Regions from separate parts of the Homo sapiens genome. Here region 1 is linked to region 2. Evidence: fine-mapped expression QTL. Tissue or cell type: monocytes. Region 2 holds a variant in brackets; the other region holds the start of a gene. All regions are shown on one strand. Distances are between the middles of the regions.

Region 1 (2,814 bases), 110 kb after region 2:
GTAACTTGCCGAAAGTCACACAGCTGCCACAGGATACAGCAGGACCCAAACTCATCGTCAAGTAAGAAGTAGTAGGACGCACAACACCAGTACTCAACACATGTGAGGAATTAACAAATGTTACTAGCCACTTACTTAAATATTTTTATTATTCACAGAACATTTTGATTATATTTTCATAACATTAACAAAATGCTCTGACATAACTAAAATAATCATGTAAGGGTCATTTGTGCATTGTGCAAGAGAAATACACAATTTGTATCCTGTTTATATATCTCTCAAATTGTGAATTCTCAAATAAGAATGTGGAATTTGAGTTATTTTTGTAATCAACAAGAAAAAAACTCACAAATATACCTTTCACTAAACGATTACCTTCCACATTCTCCAAACTTCTAAAAGCCATGTTGATTTAAAACTCTAATCTTAACTATCTTTCATATTAAAATAATAAAATGACCAATTCTAGTGAAATATTAAAGCTGAAGTAAATAAAGGCAGCTAAAACAAAGTCATAATCAATAAGTACATAAAAGAAAATTTCTGCACTTCTTAAATGAAGCTGAGGCATTATTACGAGGTCCCTAACATTTATGAGACAGGTTACAAAATAGCCAAAGCTCTTATTCATGAATTTCCATTCTGGGGAAAAAAAAGAAAAGATCAGTATTTTGCCATGACAAAAATAAATTTTTTAAAGCAGAATTTCACAAAGAGTTTTCACATATATTAGCTTATCGATGACCCTCATAACAGAACTGTGAAGTAAAATGAACAAAAATAATTATTTTCACATCCAGAAACGTAAGCTACAAAGTTTGGGGACTTGCCCAAAATCCAAAAGCTACTAATTCTGTCTTCAAATCATCCGTTTTCAGTCTTTCCAGGTCACCTCTACTGCACAGACCACACCACCCTACCCAGGCTATCAGCTCGCATATGACAGACAGCCTGGATGCGGAAGACCTTGCAAGGAAGCTCGGGCTGTTCTGGAAAGACGGCAAAAAGAGGAGGAGGGGAGACAAAGATACCCTGATTCCTTCAATGACTTATTTTTAAACGAATATTTCTGGGAGGCTGGTACCCGCTGGAGCAGTGCTCCAACCCAGGCGGCCCAGGTGAGTTTTCTAGGGTATGCCCCGGCTTCCCAGTCCCCCTGACACCTGCCACCACCCATAACTTAGATCCCCGCCCGCCACTGGTTGGGGACAGAACATCTCGGCTCCTCTCACTTCCGAGATGAAGGAAGCCTTTGCTTCAGCCGCCGCGACTTACCTGTCGGGTCATGAGAGATTTGATTTTTTGCATATCGAAATCCTGAGGAGGGTACCCTGCCTCAAAGAGCTAACAAATCACACCGAGCCACTACACAGCTGGCCCTGACACTAGGAAGCCATAGTGGGTGGTCACGTGGAGGAGCCGACCCAGGGTATCCTGTCTTTCCCTGGGCCTGCTGGGAACTGTAGTCTTCTGGACGCCGGCGGTAGCAACGATGAACTAAAGTGGCCAACCCAGGGACTACATCTCCCAGCAAGCAAAAGAGCGGGTGCTTCAGTTAAGCCGGTAAATATTACTGCTCAGAGCGACCACTGCGATCGCCGGTCTTACAAAGGTGCTTGCACTAGGCAGTAGCTACTCTTCGGCGAGACGGAAACCTAAGTCACAGGTGACTAGGCGTTGAGCGAAAGATCAAACTCAGAGGAGACAATATATAAGCCAGATTGACGCGATGTCCCCTAGGAGTGTGAGGGAGGAAACCTCACCTGGTCTAGAGGGGCGGGGTGGGAGAACGAGAGACTGACGCGAAGGAGAAGGAACTCAAGAAAGGGCTGTCACTGAGGGGTAACCTGAGAACTCGAGACTACCCCGGGCGCGCTGGGTTTGGCCTGAGGAAAGGTGTGCTCTAGGTTGCCCAATAGGCGGCCCTCCAGGTTTAGGGCTGTTCTACCTCAGTCTTGGTATCCCCTGCAAAAGCTCTAAAATCGAAGGATTTTGACGCCCGCCTATTATTTTACCTCCGTACTCTAAAGCAGTGATGACGGGAAATACGACAATAACGAGTATACCTGTCACTTTAAAGTCCTCTTTTCAACTTTTGGCAGTTTAGTTAAATTGGGGAAAGGAACAGAAGTGTCTTTGGGGACACAATTTTAAAAGGACTTTACAATTATGAGAATATGAGAAGAAGAAGAAAAAGCAGCCCTAAAGCTAACAATGATAGCTAACACTTATCGAAAGCCGAGTACCTGTCAGGAACTGCTAATAGCTTTAAATATATGATTTCATTTATCCACACAAGAATCCTGTGGGTTCCCATTTTAAAGATGACGAAGCAGGTATGGCGAAATTAAGGAACTTGCCTAAGATTACTGCAGATGTGCAAGTAGAAACTGAAGGATTAATCGGTCATCAGATGTGTTAAGATTTTCATGTATTGTGCTGAAGAAAGTTCTAAAGCATGGCACCAATTTTTTTAAGTTTATTTTATTATAATGTTAACTTCTAAAAGTATGACACAGACCCATAATTTCAAAAATATTTCTTAGAATAAAAAAAGTTCAAGTGTGTCAACGTAATAAAAAATACTAGGTAAACAATAGTATGGGTGGTAGTCAGATATGGCAAAACTAATAAAGGTGATTTGCAAATGACTGAAGTTTGGGGGACACTAACAGAGGTTATTTCTGATTCTGAAATTCTATTTTCTCACCCCTTAGAGCCTCGTTTTATTAATTTTTACAAATGAGGTTGTAATATTTTAATATTTTATATAGGGCTTTGTAAGGATAAGTGAGATGATGTAGGTGAATG
Region 2 (2,814 bases):
ATATACTTCTCAGAAACATATAAGTGATATTTAGAAGTGGTAGATGTATGCAGCTAACTAGAAGTCTAATTAAACAATGCTTCTTTTATAAAGTTTCTTAAATATTTAATGGCAACGCAACTGTTTTGAACAACTTACAAGGATTCCGTGGCTACCACTCTTTCTGCCAACCCATACAGCGTATCCCCAGATGTCAAAACCACTAGGTGACTGAGGTGTGGACTTGGCACCTTCTCCTTTCTTTCTTCTGCTGCTGTGAGTGTGGCAGTAGGATCAGCTGAAACTTCCTGAAAATACAATAGATATACAACCTGGAATAACAAATCTAACAGTAATAAACCACGTGATTTTGACAAAATTAGAATTAAAATTAAAATACTCTTGGGGCACACGTTAATTACATTTAGGTTCAGTTCTTTTTATCCTGCTTTCATGTTTGTAACTATTGGAACCTTCTTTTTAATCCTAAATGAGAATGAGCCTACATAATATCATCCAACTCTACATGCTACCATCTGTACATGACCTAAAGTCTGTCAACACAAGGACTCTTTATGAATTGACAGATGTTTCACAGTGACAACAGTGAGATGGCCCTCAAGAACTTGTAAATGAGAGAAATATGATTACCCCTTGAGAACCATGCTGATAAAATCCAAAATTATTTTTTGATTAACCATCTCACACCCAAATTTTAATGAAGGTTACCCTGGTATATAATCTCAAGAAGGCAGGACTAGAATGAAGTTATAAACTAGAACAGAGCCAACTGTATTGTATATGTCTGGGGACAGACTGCTGATAAGAAGGAAGATGGTCAATGTGAACAAAGGAAAGGGATACCCAGGAAGCAGGGTGTGCCAGGCTCTTCAGCACCATCCAGGAGAGAACCACTGATTCAGTTACACAGCCATGTAGTCAACAGGAGTGATGCAGTCTAATTTGTGGTCGGGAAAACTCATCGGACTTCAAATTTCTCAGTTTTACTTTCATCTGATGATATACTCATTAGAAATCTTCTCATTACTAATTTACCTTTCTAGGTATTCTGATGCCAGGCAACGAATGCCTTGGATATGAGTTTATGTACATTCTTGGACTTCATATAAACATATCCTATGTTATAAACAAACAGGTTGGCAAAGGAAGAGTTTCAAAGATACACTTACTCAACTTCTCAATACATAGCAAGGGACTCATTTTTTACTAAGCTCTTAGCAAACAGTTAAAAAAACAAAAACACATTTCAACTCCCAGGCACACTGGCCACCTTTTTTTGCCAGGAGGATGGGAATATCTTGAGATCATG[G/A]GTAAAGATGCACAAGGCTGGCTACTCGGAGTAGCTGACAGAGTACCAGAAGACTGCCAGCTCAAGAGTTACCAATCACTCCAAATATTTCAATATTTAACTTAATATAAACTTATTTTGGTGACTAAGTTTCCCTTTGTACAGCAAACATGAAAGAAGGCTGTTTAGAATACTGGCATCATCATAACAGTTATTTGAATAGTTGCTGCATTACACCTCAGAGAAAGAGACTTTTAATTATTGTTTTCTGGGGCACGAAGGAGAGAGGTCAAGGTAGTGACACTGCAGGAATCTTAACATCACTGATGACAGTATAATCCAGGGTCACTTCACTGTGAAGGCCATTAAGAACTTTTATAACCAAATATATTTCTAATAACAATGAGCTTGAATTACAAATGGTCATTATACTTTTAGTTTAACTATAGAGTTTTACAGTACTGACATGGCAATGAATTCCATTCATTACATTTTTTAAAAAATTCCATAAGAGAAATTTACAAAAAGAAAAAAAATAGAATAAAAGCTATGTAAGTTAAGCAATAGCTCATAGTACAAAAATGCTATTATCTTTTTTAAAGTTAATCTGAATACAAGTTAACCCCTGCCCCCACTCAAAGTTTTAAAATGTTGATTGAATCATAGAATGACAGAGTTAGAAGAGATGCTAAACATTATATAATACAACCCCTGCAGTTTATGTACTACTTTCAGTATGGAAAACACTCCATGGTTATCTCTATTATGGAGTTTAAAGGTGAGAACATATGAGTAGGCAGATAGCAAAACTAAATGTTTAAATGCAAATAAAATAGCTTTAAAAAACCCTCAAAGAAAATTTAGCACAAAAATTGGATGTAAACGCATCTAATAGTGTACAAAATATAAAGCTAGATTACTTTTTACAGCAACTTGATAGTAACAAATCTCCAATTATTTTCCATATGAATAAATGAGACATCAAATGCATACATATAATTTACTCCTATAAATTTAGCAAAATGCAAATAAAAATTATAAAACTTTTCAAGTTAGAAAGTGGTTTAATTCTTTAGTTCTGTTTTTTTTTTTTTTATTTCCTATCTTCTCCTAAAGACAGTGTCTCTTTTCAATCTCTAATTACTCAATTAGCATTTAAAAGTTAGTTGGGGAATAACTGTGCTTCCTCTAGGGAGAAGCAGGATCATGGATCCATGCAAGTTAATTAATGTCGTATCTCCATCATTCATTTCCCTCTAAAAAGGAAATAACCCTACTCCAGCAGAAAAAAAAAAGGAGAATAAAAATTCACAAAATTAAATACTGTTTGGCACCAATTGGTTGTCTATGCTATTTAATTCTGGTAGTTATTGATAAGAAACAAGTAAGGAACCTTACAGTCATTCATGACTCCCCTTCTTCCTCACCTTCCACATCCAATCAATCACTAAAACATGCCTAAACAGACACCTCTCTTGTTTGTTCCTTCCGGATGTTACTATTTAAACAGGTCACAGGCTCCTTAG

Evidence for each region. PIP is the estimated chance that this variant, and not a neighbour inherited with it, causes the effect. A credible set is the group of variants that fine-mapping cannot tell apart.
Region 1: it holds the start of VPS50, and the variant in region 2 is the best candidate, but not a certain one, in a credible set for the expression of VPS50 in monocytes (TOPMed, PIP 0.51).

Annotation. Positions count from the first base shown.
Region 1 is chr7:93,230,965-93,233,778 of GRCh38, reverse strand. VPS50 (VPS50 subunit of EARP/GARPII complex) reads right to left here and starts at 1,413. Exons shown (of 28, transcript NM_017667.4): 1 at 1,279-1,413. The coding sequence starts at 1,311. It also overlaps a transcript of HEPACAM2 not described here. RefSeq lists enhancers at 893-952, 1,193-1,242, 1,333-1,502, 1,643-1,712.
Region 2 is chr7:93,338,900-93,341,713 of GRCh38, reverse strand. It overlaps VPS50 (VPS50 subunit of EARP/GARPII complex), which reads right to left. Exons shown (of 28, transcript NM_017667.4): 23 at 139-287. Among named protein-coding and RNA genes, the nearest start is that of VPS50, 110 kb to the right of the region's middle. The variant G/A (reference allele first, on the strand shown) is at 1,310.